2 linked regions of the Homo sapiens genome follow. The protein of the gene in region 2 interacts with the protein of the main gene of each other region in a pairwise test. Each region holds a gene or a part of one and is shown on either strand. Other genes may lie near its edges.

Region 1 (8,719 bases), on a different chromosome or scaffold from region 2:
TCTTCACAAAAGGGAAGCTTGCAAATTCACTGGTACTGTGAATACAGCGTTCACTTCTATGCAGACAGAGCCTAAACAAAAGTCAAACCAAATTTCTCAAGATTCTTCATAGAAACCGAACAGAAATTCTCTCTATATATACTCATGAAAGAAAACAACAAAGTTTTCTGAAATAAAAATAACTATAAATAGGTACCACAGTCAATATATACCTACTGGCAAAAGTCAAGGTCATGTCTAGCTAAATGTAGACAGTCCTCACCTCCCCACAAACTCTGTCCTTATTACAACTTTGCCTTAGTCCCTGGCAGCAGGAAAAATATTTTCTCTATCTTCCCAAGTCTACACAAAGCCTGTCACTAAGCTGTCGCTCAATAAATCTTTGATAAGTACATCAATTCCCAGTGTTCCCCCTACTGGATTGAATTTCCAGCACTTTATGCAGACATAGCTGAGAAAAAGCACACACGACAAAGCTGAGGGATACGGCCCCAAACTTTCCTTTTTCTTCTCTTTCCTTCCCTTGCCCCAAGAGGGGAAAAATCCTCAATTCTAAATATTTTTCAATTGAGTCTAAATAAGAAGAGTTAGAAACACAAAATTAGCTTTTACCGTTGTGAAGATTTTGCTTGAAATGAGTGTTCTAAAGGTTTTGCCAAAATGTCTGTTTAATTTACTCCAAGTAACCATGCCAATCGATTTAACAATGTTTTCACACGTGTTTATGTCATTAGGGTACCATCCGACCTCTAGTGGCGTTGTTAAGGGACACAGTGCACCATGGTTACTATGCTTTTATATTCTTGGGTAAACATGTTGACTATTCAAAAAGCCTCATTTGAAAAATAAAACACAGCACACAAGATCAAGCCCAGAAGGGTTAAAATGGAAAACTGATACAAGTTTCGTAACAGAAATTCTGAGGCCTCCCTACTACTGGAATTCTTTCAGCTTTAGTAAGTTCTCTATCTGCTCTGAAAACCTCTCCTCCTAGGTCAAGTCCCATTCTCGATTTCAATTGCCTTATACTGACACTTTGTTACAATTCAGTTTCCAAATTCCACTGGCACAGAGGGCCCCCCTCTCTTCATGCCTTCTGACAGCCCATAACTGAGTCAAGTGACAGCTGGGAAGCCAACCTCCTTACGGAGTTCCCAGGCACCCTGGGCTCTCTTTGTACAGATGCAATTTACAGTTTACAATGCTTTATTCCATTGTGAAAAAATACATGAAACTAAAAACCTCAGTAACGCAGCAACGTTAAGGAACTGCTTTCCTGTACTCTGGCACTAGCTCTAGCTTGTGGATAGAATCATCTGAAAGAGAAGAGATGGGCAGATTTTACATACACAAAGGCCCAACTTCATTATATTCAGATTTTTCAACTATCTTATGAAAGTAACACTATGGACACACCATCCTAAAAGCTGCCCTCAGAACGCAGAGTTCCCTAGTGGTGACAGGCAGAAAGCTGCTCATGTTCTCTCCCAACTTTATGTGGCCCTCATAAAGAGCTCTCATGTGTGGATAAGGGAATACAGAGACGTGTTCCAAGATAAAATTCAAAATTCTTGGCTTCATTACCAATAAATCCTACTGAGATTATTCCACATGCATCTCTCTAAAAAGCAGCATTCGGCATACCCACACTCGCCATTCTCCCAGAGAGCAGTACTAAGAATATGACTTAAATTTCACATTGGAGTGCCTCCCGTAACTTATATTCAAGAAATAGTACAGCTGATTGCCTGGGAATTTGCATGAAGAACGAAATACCAAAGTAATAAAATGCAGACCAATTCATAGACAGCTAGATCTTTCTTCACATCTGCAAAAAACAGATTCATCATCTCGTGGGGCCAAACACATATCATCTAGTGGATGCCTGAATAAAGATGAGGCCTGTACTTGGCTCTGAGTTTATTAATCCAAACAAGACTTTGACTGTCAGCATTCTGCAGTTTTCCTGATGGAGAAATCAGGCACCGAGGGCATAGTACAGGCAAGTCACAGTGAGTGTGGAGCAGGTGCCAAGGGCCACTGAATTCTGACTTATTTGGGATCAGTGGGAGGAAGGGAGCAAATGAATGCAATTTAAACATCACTGGCTTGGCCGGAGTCTTTCTGTCTGCTCCTCTGTAAGGGTGCCTGAACAAAGGCTCTGTGTCTAGTGCCCAGCACCGTGCCTGGCACAAAAACGGATATCAGTAAATATTTGGAATTCGTGAATAGCAGGTCCTTTCATCTTTACATCCCCAAAGCTCCTTCAAATAAGTTCGTGCATTTCATGCTACGAGATGGGCACCATCAACCCCATTATATTGGTGGGGAAACAGTGGCTCAAAAGAATGGACTGACCGACCAAGTCAAGACAGCAGCGAGGGTCGCGGTCCTAACCACACCACAGCTGCAGGACACTTAGATCTCAGCCACGCCCACCCACATGCACCGCCCCCCCCCCACCTCCTCCGCTGCTTACACGACGCCCCCACCTCGCGCCCCAGTCCCGCCAGGCTGGGGACAAGGCACAGCAGCGTCCTCTCGGCCTCTCCCAGGCCCCAATTCGACACAACCATTCCCCGTCCCCAGCCCCCGGACGAGGAGGGGGTGCAGCCCCTCCACCCCGCCCCGTCGCCGCCCCTAGCCCGACCTTTTTGTCCCAGATTTGCAGAGGCTTGCTGCCGATGCTGTAGAGGATGGAGAGGAAGCCGCTCTGGAACGTGTTTTTGAACATCTCGCCGGCGGCCTTCTCCTAAGCCGCCCCCGGAGCCGACCTAGGCCCCGGAGTAGATACAGGCACCGAGCGTCGAGGGCACAGCAGCAGGCCGGCCCTGTTCCGAAGAAGGGTGGTTGAGCTCCTGGCCTCCGGATCTGCAGCCACTGATGGCCGGACTCGGACGCGGCAACGCTAAGTCCGCGATCTTCAGCTCCTAAGCTGCGAGCTCAGAACGGAAACCACAGCAACTACCGTCCGCGCCGCGGTATTTCCCCGCCTTCAATGGAGGCGGAGGGCCGCCCGTTGCTTAAAATGAATCCCTCCGCCCATCTGAGCCCGCCCCCCGGGAGCGCGGGGCCCAATCCCGTTACAAGGACCACGGACTTCCGTTTCGTTCCGCCTGTAAGTCCCGCCTGGTCCCGCCTCCTCCTGAAAAGAGCTCAGTTGTCAAGGAACTATTTTTCTTGCCGTCGTCCCAGAGATGCCTTTGGAAAAGCGGAAGGGCACGGAGGGTTCTGGAGTTCGTTGCTGGCACCTGCGTGGTGTCATGAGAACGTGGCGGGGCGGTGAGTGACGTGAGGGGGCGTGACGGCCAGGCCGGGAGTAGTTGCCCGCGCGGGAGAACAGGGGCTGCGCAGGGAAAGCGGCTTTGAAAAAGAGCTTCTTGGCGTCGGGCGGACGCCCAACACATGCTTGTCGGCCAAGTACAGGATAAGGTTAAAGGGAACTAACCAATATTCAGCACTAACTGTGATAAGCGCCTAATATACATCCCTGCCTGTCATTATTCACATTGTGGCATGCAGTCAAAGCGACACTCTGAGGAAAATGTATCGCCTTAAATACATTGATTAGAAAATAAGAAAGCCCGAACATGATTAGGCCGGGCGCGGTGGCTCACGGCCGAAATCCCAGCACCTTGGGAGGCCGAGGCAGGCGGATCGCTTGAGTCCAGGAGTTCAAGACCAGCCTGGGCAAAAAAGCGAGACCCTTCCTCTACAAAAAAATACAAAAATCAGCCGGGCGTGGTGGCGCGCGCCTGTAATCCCAGCTACTTGGGGGGCTGAGGTGGGATGATCCCTTGAGCCCGGGAGGAGGAGACTGCAGTGAGCCGAGACCACGCCACTGCACTCCAGCCTGGGCGACAGAGCGAAACCCGGTCTCAAATAAATAAATAATCCTGAACATTAAGATAAAGGCAGACATTCATAAACAAAATTAAGAAAGTTGAGTTGAACCAACAGCTGATTTTTATTTTATTATTTATTTGTTTATTTATTTTTGAGACAGGATCTCGCTCTGTCACCTAGGCTGGAGTGCAGTGGCGCGATCATGGCTCACTGCAGCCTCGACCTCCCCTGCTCAGCCTATCCTTCCACCCAGTCTCCAGAGTAGCTGACTACAAGCGTGGGCCACCATGCCTGCGTTAATTTTTTGTTTTTGTAGAGACAGGGTTGCACTGTGTTGCTCAGGCTGGTCTCAAACTCAGGCTGGTCTACACTCCAGCCTGGGCAACACAGTCTCTGAAAAATAAAAATAAAAATTAATACGGCTGGGCGCGGTGGCTCACGCCTGCAATCCCAGCACTTTGGGAGGCTGAGGCAGGTGGATCACGAGGTCAAGAGATCGAGACCATTCTGGCTAACACGGTGAAACCCCGTCTCTACTAAAAATACAAAAAATTAGCCGGGCGTGGTGGCGGGCACCTGTAGTCCTAGCTACTCGGGAGGCTGAGGCAGGAGAATGGCGTGAACCCATGAGGCAGAGCTGGCAGTGAGCTGAGATCACGCCACTGCACTCCAGCCTGGGTGACAGTGAGACTCCGTCTCAAAATAAATAAATTAATAAATTAATTAATACCTAGAATATTTTAGAAAACATAAAGTAAGCTACATTTTGAGTGTAAAGGGAAATCTCAAATGTTGACATAGTCACTGAGCATCTACCTAAATATTGTATTTTTTGCCTAGGCCTGTGCTGGGTGGTATGGCTGATAGAAAAGGAGTCTGTAGCTAATATCATCATTATTAGCAGTTTTTGTCCATTATAGCAGTAAGTTGAACATTTACTATGTGTCAGGCACTATATATTAACACCTTAGCATGTATTAACTCATTCAGTCCTCACATCAGCCCCCTAAATAATCCAGCCAGAATTTCTGGACATAGTGAGAAAATATATGAATCTTATTACTGTAGAAAGTCAAAAACTTTTTATATGAAACTGTCATTTTTGGATGATTTCTGGAGAGGCTATACCTTAGACTGATGAACAATGTATCCTTTGATTTTTATTAAATTGTTAAAAATATCTTAGGCAAAAATTCCAGTTAAGAAAAGCAGACATATTAAAGAAAGAATTGACTGTAGAAGAGTTATTACGATGATTATTCAAATGCTACACACAACTTTACCCCCTTGAAAATCTGTATGAGATAAATTATTTTCTAGGAAAAAAGTGACCAATTTTGGGTCTAGAACTAGAAAACCAAATAAACAATAATCATAGAGGAAAATAAAGGTTGTGATTGCTCCCCTCCAGAAAGGTTCTGAGTCTAATTACTTTATGTGAGTTTACTTTTTTTTCTTTTTCTTTTCTCTCTTCTTTTTTTTTTTTTTTTGAGACAGAGTCTCATACTGTCACCCGGGCTGGAGTGCAATGGAGCGATCTTGGCTCACTGCAACCTCCGCTTCCTGGGTTCAAGCAATTCTCCTGCCTCTGCCTCCTGAGTAGCTGGGACTACAGACGCCCACCACCATGCCCAGCTAATTTTTTGTATTTTTAGTAGAGACAGGGTTTCACTGTGTTGGCCAGGCTGGTCTAGAACTCCTGACCTTGTGACCCTCCATCTCCCAAAGAGCTGGTATTACAGGCATGAGCCACCGCGGCCGGCCAAGTTTACTTTTTTCTGATTAATGTAATCTAATATTAAGTTCATTGAGGAAACTGTGCAAAATAACATTATGATCACTCATAATGCCATTATTCAGAAATAATTGTGTACTTTTGTGTATTGTCTGTTCATGTCTTCCTGTCTTGCCATCCTCACCTATCCATTTGACTTAAGTCATTCCCCTTCCTCAATCCAATTGTTAAAAAATACATACAGACATTCATGGAAGTTTTGTTTTAAGACAGACACAGCCAGGCGCAGTGGCGGCACCTGTAAGTCTCAGCTAACTGGGAGGCTGAGGCAGGAGGATCGCCTGAGCCTGGGAGGTTGAGACCAGCCTGGGCGACATAGTGGGACTTGTCTCAAAAAAGTAAGATAAAATAAAAATAAGCAGCACACATTTTACAAAGAAAAAGAAAAAAAACCGGCCGGGCACAGTGTCTCATGCCTGCAATCCCAGCACTTTGGGAGGCCGAGGTGGGTGGATCATTTGAGGTCAGGAGTTCGAGACCAGCCTGGTCAACATGGTGAAACCCCACCTCTACTAAAAATACAAAAATTAGCCAGTTGTGGTGGTGGGCACCTGTAGTCCCAGCTTCTAGGGAGACTGAGGCAGGAGAATCACTTGAACCTGAGAAGTGGAGGTTGCAGTGAGCCGAGATCATGCCACTGCACTCCAGCCTGGGTGACAGAGCAAGACTCTGACTCAAAAAAAAAAAAAAAAAAAAAAAAAAAAGCCAGGCACAGGGCTCACTTGTAGTCCTAGCTACTGGGGAGGCTGAAGCAGGAGGATCCCATGAACCTAGGAGGTAGAGGCTGCAGTGCTGCTATAATGAAGATGGTGAATAGCTACTGCACTCTAGCCCATCTCTAATATTTATATATGTATAAAGATACAATAGACACATACTGAGCACATTCTTTAGCACTGTGGCTTTTAAGATCCATCCATTGTACCAGTGTGCATCTAATCCATTGCTTGTAACTGCTGCTCAGTTTTCCAGGTGTGCCCCAACCACATTTTATTTGTCCATGCCTGCAGTAATGGACATCCTTATACCTGTCCTCTTAAGGACCTATATGAGAATTTTCTTTCTCTCTTTCTCTCTCTCTCTCTCTCTCTTTCTTTTGACAGAGTTTCACTCTTGTTGCCCAGGCTGGAGTGCAAGGTGCAATGGCGCAATCTTGGCTCACTGCAACCTTCACCTCCTGGGTTCAAGTGATTATCCTGCTTCAGCCTCCAGAGTAGCTGGGATTACAGGCGTGTGCCACCGCGCCCAGCTAATTTTATATTTTTAGTAGAGACGGGGTTTCTCTATATTGATCAGACTCGAACTCCTGACCTCAGGTAATTCACCCATCTTGGCCTCCCAAAGCGCTGGGATTACAGGCGTGAGCCACCGCGCCTGGCCGAGAATTTCTTTTGCATACACATGCAGTAACAGAATTTCTAGGTATTCATCTATGCATATACAACGTGTAATGTGACTAAATGGCTCTCCAAAATAGTGTACCCATTTACACTCACATTAGCAATGCATGAGGATCTCTGCAGTCACATCCAACCACCAATAATGGATGTTATTTCACTTTCTGAACTTTGCCAGTCTGATAGGTATACAATGACAATTCATTTTATTTATCATTTGTCTGATTACTAACATGCTGGCTTATCTCCTCATAGGCATTTAAGTTTCTTTCTTTTATTTTTATTTTATTTGGAGACGGAGTCTTGCTCTATCATCCAGGCTGGAGTGCAATGGTGCAATCTCAGCTCACTGCAACCTCCGCCTCCCAGGTTCAAATGATTCTCCTGTCTCAGCCTCCTGAGTAGCTAAGATTACAGGTGCCCACCACCATGCTTGGCTAATTTTTGTACTTTTTATTTTTTTTGAGACCGAGTTGTGCTCTTGTTGCCCAGAGTGGAGTGCAGTGGCGTGATCTCGGCTTACCACAACTTCCAGCCTCCTGAGATTCTGCTGCCTCAGCCTCCCGAGTAGCTGGGATTACAGGCATGTGCCGCCAAGCCCGGCTAATTTTGTATTTTTAGTAGAGACGGGGTTTCTCCATGTTGGTCAGGCTGGTCTCAAACTCCCGACCTCAGGTGATCCACCCGCCTCGGCTTCCCAAAGTGCTGGGATTACAGGCATGAGCTACCGCGCCTGGCCAGTTTTTGTATTTTTTAGTAGCGATTGGGTTTCACCATATTGGCCAGACTGGTCTCGAACTCCTGACCTCAAGTGATCTGCCCGCCTCGGCCTCCCAAAGTGCTGGCATAACAGGCATTAGCCACAGCGCCCGCCCATTCTTTATTTTAAAATTGCCATTTGGTATCCTTTGCCCAAGTCTCTATTGAGGTACCTTTCTTTTCCTTACTGATTTGCAATAGAAAATAGTATGTCTAGGTATTAAGAATCCCTCGTTGGTTTTAGACACTGCAAACATCTTTTCCCAGTCTGTCAATTGTTAATTTCATTTGTCAATGTCTTCATTGAACAGAAGTCTTAATTTTTATTTAATTATTTCCTTTCTTTTTTGTGTTATGGTTTGTACTTAGAGGTTTAAAGAAGTTATTACCCACCCTTAGGTCACCTTTGCATATTAACTGCATAGATTTATATTACGTATTTATGTTTCAGTTCTTCCAAAGATAGTATTTGCATGTGGCATGTAGGAAATCAGTTTTATTTTTCTCCTTAGAGTAAGCCAGTTTCATTAATGTCATATGTAAACTATTTTTTCCTGAATGGCTTATGAAGCCACCTTTATTTTATATTAAGTTTCCATATATACAATGTATCTATTCCTGAACTCTCTTCTAGTCCACTGGTCTATTTAAAAGTTCTTACACCAATAAGACCCAGATTATTAGATTGTATTAGTATTGTTTTGTAGTGTGTCTTTTTTTTTTTTTTTTTTAAAAACAGAGTCTCACTCTGTCGCCCAGTCTGGAGTGCAATGGTGCGCTCTTGGCTCACTGCAACCTCTGTCTACCCGTCCCAAGTGATCCTCCCACCTCAGAGTCCTGAGTAGCTGGGACTACAGGTGCAGCCCACCACGCCCAGTTAATTTTTGTGATTTTTGGTAGAGATGGGGTTTTGCCATGTTGC
Region 2 (8,414 bases):
TTAGCCAGGCATGGTGGCTCATGCCTGTAATCTCAGCTACTAGGGAGGCTGAGGCAGGAGAATTGCTTGAACCTGGGAGGCTGAGGTTGCCAGGAGGTGGAGGTTGCCATGAGCCGACATCGCATCATTGCACTACAGCCTGGGCAACAAGAGTGAAACTCCGTCTTAAAAAAAAAAAAAAGGAATAAAGTTATGTCATACCAGCAACATGGACAACCTTGGAGGTTATTAAGAGAAATAAGTCAGGCACAGAAAGATAAATACTGTATGTTCTCACTCATATGTGGAGGCTTAAAAAGTTGATCTTATAAAAGTAGAGAGTAAAATAGTGGCTAGTAGTGGCTGAGAAGTGTCAGGAGAAGGGGGCATAGCCAAAGGTTGATTAAAAAATACAAAAGTAGTCGGCCAGGCACAGTGGCTCACGCCTGTAATCCCAGCACTTTGGGAGGCCGAGGCGGGCAGATCACGAGGTCAAGAGAATGAGACCATCCTGGCCAACGTGGTGAAACCCCATCTGTACTAAAAATACATAAATATACAAAAATTAGCTGGGCATGGTGGCGCACACCTGTAGTCCCAGCTACTTGGGAGGCTGAGACAGGAGAATCGCTTGAACCTGGGAGGTAGAGGTTGCAGTGAGCCGAGATGGTGCCACTGCACTCCAGCCTGATGACAGAGCAAGACTCTGTCTCAAATAAATAAATAAATAAATAAATAAATAAATAAATAAATAAATAAAAATAAATAAAAAACAAATACAAAAGTACAGCTAGTTAGGAGGAATGAGTCTAGTGTTCCATAGCACTGCAGGGTGACTATAATTAACAATTTATAGTATGTTTCAAATAGCTAAACGAGCAGATTTTGAATGTTCTCAGCACAAATAAATGATAAATGAGGCAATAGATAAGCTAATTATCTGATTTGATCACTACACATTGTATACATGCAATGGAAATATCACACTGTACCCATAAATATGTACAATTATTATGTGTCAGTTGAAAACAATTTTACAAAACACACATTTGCATGTTTATTCTTAGGTTTTTACAGTTCTTTAATCTTATTTATTCACCTATTTTTTTGAGACAAGGTCTTGATAGGGTCTTGCTTTGTCGCCCAGACTATACTGCAGTGGCACAATCACAGCTCACTGCAGCCTTGACCTTCCACACTCAAACAATCCTAAGTTTCACCTTTTGACCTACACAGACTAATTGTATTACATTTTAATGTGAAGTCTCCACCCTGAAGTGAACTTGGGACCATGTAACATGAATGTTTGCTTACCACACAACCTAGCAAGCCCCTTTCACAAATATTCATAGCTCCTCCTATAACCTATTAAATATGTATGTTTAGCCAACCTGTTTAGCATAAAACTCCTCTCCCACCCTTCTTCCTTCAAAGTGCCTACTTTCTGTCTCAGCCAGAGGGTCTGCTTCCCAGGCTGTGGGTTGCAACTCTTCTCAGAAATAAAGTTCTCCTTTCCAAATTTAAGATCTTGTGATCTTTATTTTGACATATGAGATTTCCCTAGCCGGTTTTTAGTCCATCCCTGAAAGACTGAATGGTTAGATCTTTGATATCTTTCTCAAGTACCTCCCATTTGACCTCAGCCATCCATTTTCAAGTATCACCAGTCCCAGTATCATATGAATAAATTGGGAAAGATCAAGGAATCATGGATCATATACTCCAGGAGAATTTTTTACCTCCAAGAAAATTTCTGGGGGCTTTCCTTTGAAACCTTTCACTGTTGCTCTGAACTCAAAAGATTTCTGAACAAGGCATAACAGTGATTAAAGAAGCAGACTTATTAATCTGAGGGCCTAACTATATAAGGCATTTGTTTAGCTTTCTTTTTGTCTTTGGGGTAGGAAGGTAACTGAGATAAGAAGTTAGGAGATTCTGAGTAGGCAGAGAAGGATAGAAAGATAGAATGTACAGTGAGTTCAATACATCAAAATACAATTTTTTTTCTCATAAATTAGCTGCTTAAGTTTTTCATTTGCTTTTTGTAAGAAGTCATTTAGAAAGGCAATTTTTGGTTCATTTAACCTTTTAGAAGCCTCTGCATGTCAATCAAAATACATCCTTTTGTTTCTGAGGTGTTTTTTGTCCTTTCTTAATATTTTATTTTATTCCTTTCAGACCTAGTCCTGCAAATATCCTTTCTTTTCTAATGTCTTGCAAGTGAACAATTTTATCTAGGTTAAAACTTCCTCACTTTGACCACTGTTAACTCTTAGATTACCTTTGGTAGGTTCACCCATTTCTCTGGAAAAGTGCAGACTCTGGGTTCATAGGTTCTTATACATGAAATTGGCTGGAGTTCCAGGTGGAGGAGTTTCAGACTCCTTGGATCCAAATGAAGGCATCATTCCCTGTATTCTCATACCCTTTCCTACCATAAGCCTCCTACTGGACTCAGTCCTGCTCCCATAGGCCTTGTACTGGATCCAGTCCCAGTTTCTGTTGTAACTTCTGGACCCAGCTCAGATCAAAAATGCTCAAATAAACTTTAAGAATTTGACACAAGTTGTAGAGTTTGTATCCAAGCAGGGCCTACAAGTGGCGGCCTCCAAATGTGCAGTGAGAAGCCCTGAGCACAAATGGCTCAGTGTGTGAAGCAGGCCCACGGGCACTGGTTACCAACCTGTTCTGAATTCTCATAAGCAACAATTTACATGTAGTGCATTTATTACCTATAGACAGGTGGTAGGAGACGAAGACTAGGACTCACTGTGAGCCAATCCCCCCAAAGCTCAGAAAGTTGCCCAGGTGGATGAAATCTCTACTGCGTATTCCTCACTTACACCACAGATAAGAGATCCCGAAGAGCAGCCCACCCAGATTACATACCACATGTCACATGAATCACTGGGCTAAAGTGTTGAAGGACCTTCTATTTCTAGGGGAGAACTGGAACAGAGCCTGGGCTACTTCAGCCAGTCCCTCCCTATCTCAGGATGTTGCATCCCAGCTCGTTATGCAGTTACTCTTGAAAACTACAAAGGAAAAGGAGGGAGAAGTGGGTAGGCCCAAGGCTATACAGAGAACTGTCCTGCACAATGAAGCACCTGCATCTGTTTAGTCACTGTTCCCAGAGGTCATCATTGAGGGAATAGGGGGGCCTTCAGATCCCATTTCTGACACCAGAACTGTTAAAAGAGAAACTTTACACAAAACAAATTCGAGTTTATTCGAGCAAGAAAACAATTCATGAATCAGGCAGCATGCAGAAGCAGAAGAGGTTCAGAGAGTTCCACTCAGCAGCATGAGCAGCAAGCTTTTATAGACCCAACACGGAAGCAGAAAAATTACTTGATTGGGTTTTGGTTTGCTTGCATAGGAGCTGGTGTTACAGAGTTGATCTCAAGCTAATGGCCTCCTTATTTGCTTTAGCACCCCACACCTGAACCCAAGGGAAAGCTTGAAGGGAGCCCAGCACCGAAACAAACTAGTAAATGCCTGGGGGCAAACAACAGTGTTTTTATCAAGTAACCATGACACATACATCTTCCTCAGCAGTGGCAGAGCAGTCTTGTAGAGTTAGATAGGAAGATGATGGCCTGGCCACGCATGCTCAGCTGCTGGCCCGGCTCATTCTACAGGTATTAACCAGTATTTGGCCCACAGTGTGCTAAGCACCATTCTAGGTGCTGAGGATGCTAAGGTGACCCCAACAATGTCCCTGATCTCTTAAAGCTAATTCTGGTGGGATGCTGAACACAGGATGTAACCTAAGGTGGTGATGAGAGGTACACAGACAAATCGGAAGGCACAAGTTAGCCACCAGTGAGGGGAAACTCCAGACAACGTAGACACATAAGGCCAGGTGGAGAAATGGATGACTGAGTTAAACTTGGGTAAGGAGCCTGGCAAATGAAGACAGAAGCATGACCCAGTCAGGGGAAACCACAACAAAAGACGTTTGGTGGGAACTGCCTGTTTCTTAATTTCCAAAAATCAGTTAAAGGTTCATATACATTATCTCATTTCAACATCACTGGTAGAAAGATTCCATTTTTATGGAGAGGGGATCTGAGGCCCAGAAAGGAGACGATCTGTCATCGTTTTCCACTCAAGGGCAAACATGGGGATATCCCATCCCATCCCAAAGCCTAAGATTTTGCACTCCAGGCCCTTTGTCTGACCTGAAATTACTGAGCTAAAAGGGACCGAAAGATCCTAATGGAACCACCGATGGGAAAACTGCGGCCCAGGAGGAAACACACCAAGCAAAATTGCACCGTATCCAGGTGGCCAGTCTCCAGACTGGGGTCTCCCTGCCCCGCCAGACCATCTCCCGGCGACAAGGGTCTCAGGTTTCCGAAATCTCGCCACCCGCGAGTGATTTGCAGCGCAGGGGCCTCTGCTGCCTCGGAAACCTTCAAAGGTGGGCGGGTCGGGGACCAAGTCCCCCTAGGGATGGAGAAGGAAACGGGGCCAAGGAAAAGGACATCGCCACCCTGGGCAGAGCACGCACGGCCCCAGCGACTCGGACATGGTGAGGGGCGCGGAGGCTCGGGGTGGACCCGAGGCCTCCACACATGTGGCAGGCTGCAGCAACCCGCCACCCACGAGGACTCGCCCAAGGCCCAGAGCGCGCCGGGCCCCTCCCTCCGACTCCGTCGCCGCCCGACTGGCCGCAGCGGAAGCCGGCGCGCGATCCCACGCTGCGCTTTCGCCACGTCCTGACGGCTGCCCGATAAAACGGACATTAAAATTGCACTTTCCACTGAATACAGCAGCGCCTATTGTGGCGGCACACCTGAATGCGAAAATTAAAGCCAAAATATTTCCTAGCGGCTAAAAGAGCTCCAAGCCTAGGCGAATCTGCCGGTCCGCTCGCCGGAAATGCGGGCTCTCCTGCCGGAAGCTGCCCCTCCACCATTTTGTGGCCCGCTATGGCGGCGGTGTTGAGGTTGGGTACGGGATGCGGGGTCTTTGACTGAAGGGGTAGGCCAAGTGGAGGTATCAGGGACGTCGCGCGGCACAGAAGAGGACCAGCCTGGACGCCGGGGACGCTGTCATGTACGGCGCGAGCGGGGGCCGCGCCAAACCCGAGAGGAAAAGCGGCGCGAAGGAGGAGGCCGGGCCAGGCGGTGCCGGCGGTGGGGGCAGCCGAGTGGAGCTCTTGGTTTTCGGCTATGCCTGCAAGCTGTTCCGGGACGACGAGCGGGCCCTGGCTCAGGAACAGGGACAGCACCTCATCCCCTGGATGGGGGACCACAAGATCCTCATCGACAGGTCGGTTCCTCTCCCCACCCGTCGATCCTTCCCTTCCCTCACCCGCTTGATCTCGTCTGATGTTGACTTGACTGCAAGGACTGCAGAGAGTTTTCTGGAGCCAGCGGGGATCTGGGGGACACCCCCTCCCCTGTCCCCACCTCCTCCTGGTGTTCTGGTGGGGAGGGGGACGGTGAAACCTGCCCTAAGGCACTGGCTGGAATTGCGTGCCGCGTCCGTCTCCGGAGGGATCGTCTCTGGTCCCGCAGCCCCTCTCGACCCCTCACCCTGTCGCTGGGCTGCAGTTGGCGATTCCGCGCGGTGAAAGCAGCCAGTGCCCAGGGTCTTTTCCTGAGTGCACCTGGGCCTGCCGCCCGGCGATGCCATGGGGTCGTGCGCTGCTTTTCTACTTGCCGCGCTCTCACTGCTCGGTGTACTGGGAGGGTACCCTGGGAGGCGTGCCTTTATTCTTCCGAACCGCCGCTCACTGAGACAGTGGCTAGAAGTGTCTCTTGGACCTGTGAGTTAGCCTTAACCTGTTATGCCCCCAGAGCCCTCAGTGGAGCGCCCGTACTTTGCCGGCATGACGTTTGATTTCCCGGTGATAATCCGACGAGTTTGACAGATTGAGGTAGTGAGCAAAGTTGCCCGTCAGTTGGTGGCCACTTGACTTCGTGCGGACCCTGGCCTTGCTCTTGGAAGAGATAGTGTTCTTAGGGCTGGTTTCACTGTCTCTTAAGACTGAAGGGTGGAGCTGGGATATAGATGTGTTGTTTCTTTTCAAATCAAACCTGCTTTAGGTCGTCACTCGAGGGTGTCTAGCGATTATGGGCAGTGGGGGCCTGGGATTAGGGATTTCTAAAGGCGTTTGATTTGAAAAGGATAACATTACATGATGTAGGTGGTTTGCTCCCCTCTTTCTTCCCATTTTTTCAATCCCCCTTCCCCTCGTCTCTGGGTTTTGGGGTTGTTGTGGGGTGGTTTTTTTTCTTTTTTGCCTGTTCGGCTACTTCTGGGGCCCGGACTGAAAAGCTAACCATGACCAACCATTAAACTGTGGAATAGTCTCTCCACGTGAAGAAAGCCCATCGTTTGAGACCATTAAAACTGGATTCTTCATAGCCCTGGAGCATGACTGTAGGGATGACCTCTGAGCTGGCCAGAATGGACACATTAATGACCAAATAGGCCTTTTTCCATCCCTGACGTTTCCTTTTGGAATTAGAGCTCGAAAACGAGAACTGGTGAAGGGAGGGCCGCGGAATCAGATCATGTCTGGATCTGATGGCTCCGTGCTGTGCTCAAGCGTGCTGTGCCTTCACACCATGGTTTATATTGAATGTGTCGCCTGAGTTGTCAGGCTTGCTTTTCCAAAGTGTCACTTGTGTTATTTATCATTAAAGTTTGGTAAGCAATGAAGTCTGAGCTCTTTGTACAGTTTTCCTATCATTCTGTACATGATTTGAGTTAGGTCTTCCAAAACTGGTGGGGAGCAAACGCCGCACATGTACATGTATAATATTTTTAATAATAATCTACATTTGTAAGTTAAGGAGGTTTACATCAAAATCCAATTAATTTTGAAATTTAATGAAATGCAGTAACTTGACTACCTTGGAATTTTGGGCCTTTTTCCTGTAAATGTCTTTTTTGGTCTACATTAATATTTTTGGTTCCCATTACAAAAGTCAGCATTAAAAAAATAAGCAGACTTTTGTTTGTTTCTCTACATTTGTTTTTGAAACCCTAAACCTGAGTGTTTTAAGTAAAGTTCACTAACTCATTCATTTATTATCTGACAGTTACACGTTGACAGCATCCTCATTGAATCCTTTATGTTAAAAGCATAGCAGAAAGTGCTCCCATTACTTATTTGGCCAAACTACTGTTTGGTCCATGCAAGAGAAACATGGAAGTGTCTTCATGTATGTTATTTCCTTGAGGGTATAAAGTTCAGAAGGAAATATTGATACCATATCTTCTAATAGTTTTGCTCTGTTCCCAGTGAACCTCCTTAAACTGCATGTATATGTCACTGTTCCAATGTATGTGTGTCTCTCTATCACGTAACCCAGCACTTATTTCCTCAGCCAAGTGGCTAGGGGGCGAGCCTAGCCAAGATTTTACCTCCAATGGACGCAAGTTTCTTTGGTGAAGATCTCTCCTGAGAGTTCGGGACTAGCAGAAAGAAGCGAGGAAATTTCGACCGTTTGGTTCTTACGGATAGGTATTTATGTATTTGGTTTGTGTGAATGTAAGCTATGATATTTAACTTTTCAGAAAAAAATAATAATTTTTTGCAAGTGGCATTGAATGGTTGACCAAACCATAATGGTAAGAACTGCCAGTGAAGTGGGTACCATTTTTGCTATTAATGGATTGTTTGCCTTTAGTTATAAATGTTATCTTACTGTGGAAAGGAATTTAGAGTTTGTTAAGATAACTTGAGTTTAAAAGTAGGTGAGATATGACTATCCAAATTAAATATAAATCTGGGAAGAGTTTTTATACTTGTTTTAATATTTTTGTTTATTTTAATCGGTAAGTATGTGTGTGTATATATATATACATATATAAAACATCACACACGCACACCAGTCTAGACGTTAATTTCCTTTTATTGACCAGCTTGTTCACATTACAGATATGATGGACGTGGTCACCTGCATGACCTTTCTGAGTACGATGCTGAGTATTCCACGTGGAACAGAGATTATCAGCTGTCTGAAGAGGAGGCGCGAATAGAGGCCCTGTGTGATGAAGAGAGGTATTTAGCCTTGCATACGGACTTGCTTGAGGAGGAGGCAAGGCAAGGTACTGCTCAAGACAAACTTACTTCAGCAACAAACTTTTTAAAATTTTTAAGTATTTAAAAATTTACTCCCATTCATTTTTTTATACTCACTCTTTCTGATATTATCTTGACAGTACCCAGTGGATTGGAAAAACAGGAGTCTTTGCGTTCTGAGAGGACCTCAGGATAGTTTATATATAGAGCCACAAAGAATTTTCCCAGCTTTTGAGGGCAGACTGGGATTTGAAAAAAACAAAAACCAAACTCTTTAACTGTTCTTCTTTAACAGTATCGTATAAATAAAATTGATGTTCTTGTCTTTGCCGTAACAGTCTTTAATACAGTTCTTAATCCCAAAATTTTCTCAGCAGGAAGAAATTTT

The links.
Region 1: the proteins of SFSWAP (region 2) and CFAP20 interact in binary tests that used the Homo sapiens proteins (3 or more experiments, as listed by UniProt).

What each region holds. Positions count from the first base shown.
Region 1 is NC_000016.10:58,126,382-58,135,100, forward strand, and holds the start of CFAP20 (cilia- and flagella-associated protein 20), read right to left. Parts: upstream 3,001-8,719; 5' UTR 2,735-3,000; coding exon 2,651-2,734; exon of another isoform or gene 2,503-2,650; intron 1-2,502. UniProt on the Homo sapiens protein: Cilium- and flagellum-specific protein that plays a role in axonemal structure organization and motility. Microtubule inner protein (MIP) part of the dynein-decorated doublet microtubules (DMTs) in cilia axoneme, which is required for motile cilia beating.
Region 2 is NC_000012.12:131,706,189-131,714,602, forward strand, and holds the start of SFSWAP (splicing factor, suppressor of white-apricot homolog), read left to right. Parts: upstream 1-4,901; 5' UTR 4,902-5,041; coding exon 5,042-5,259; exon of another isoform or gene 5,260-7,882; coding exon 7,883-8,052; intron 8,053-8,414.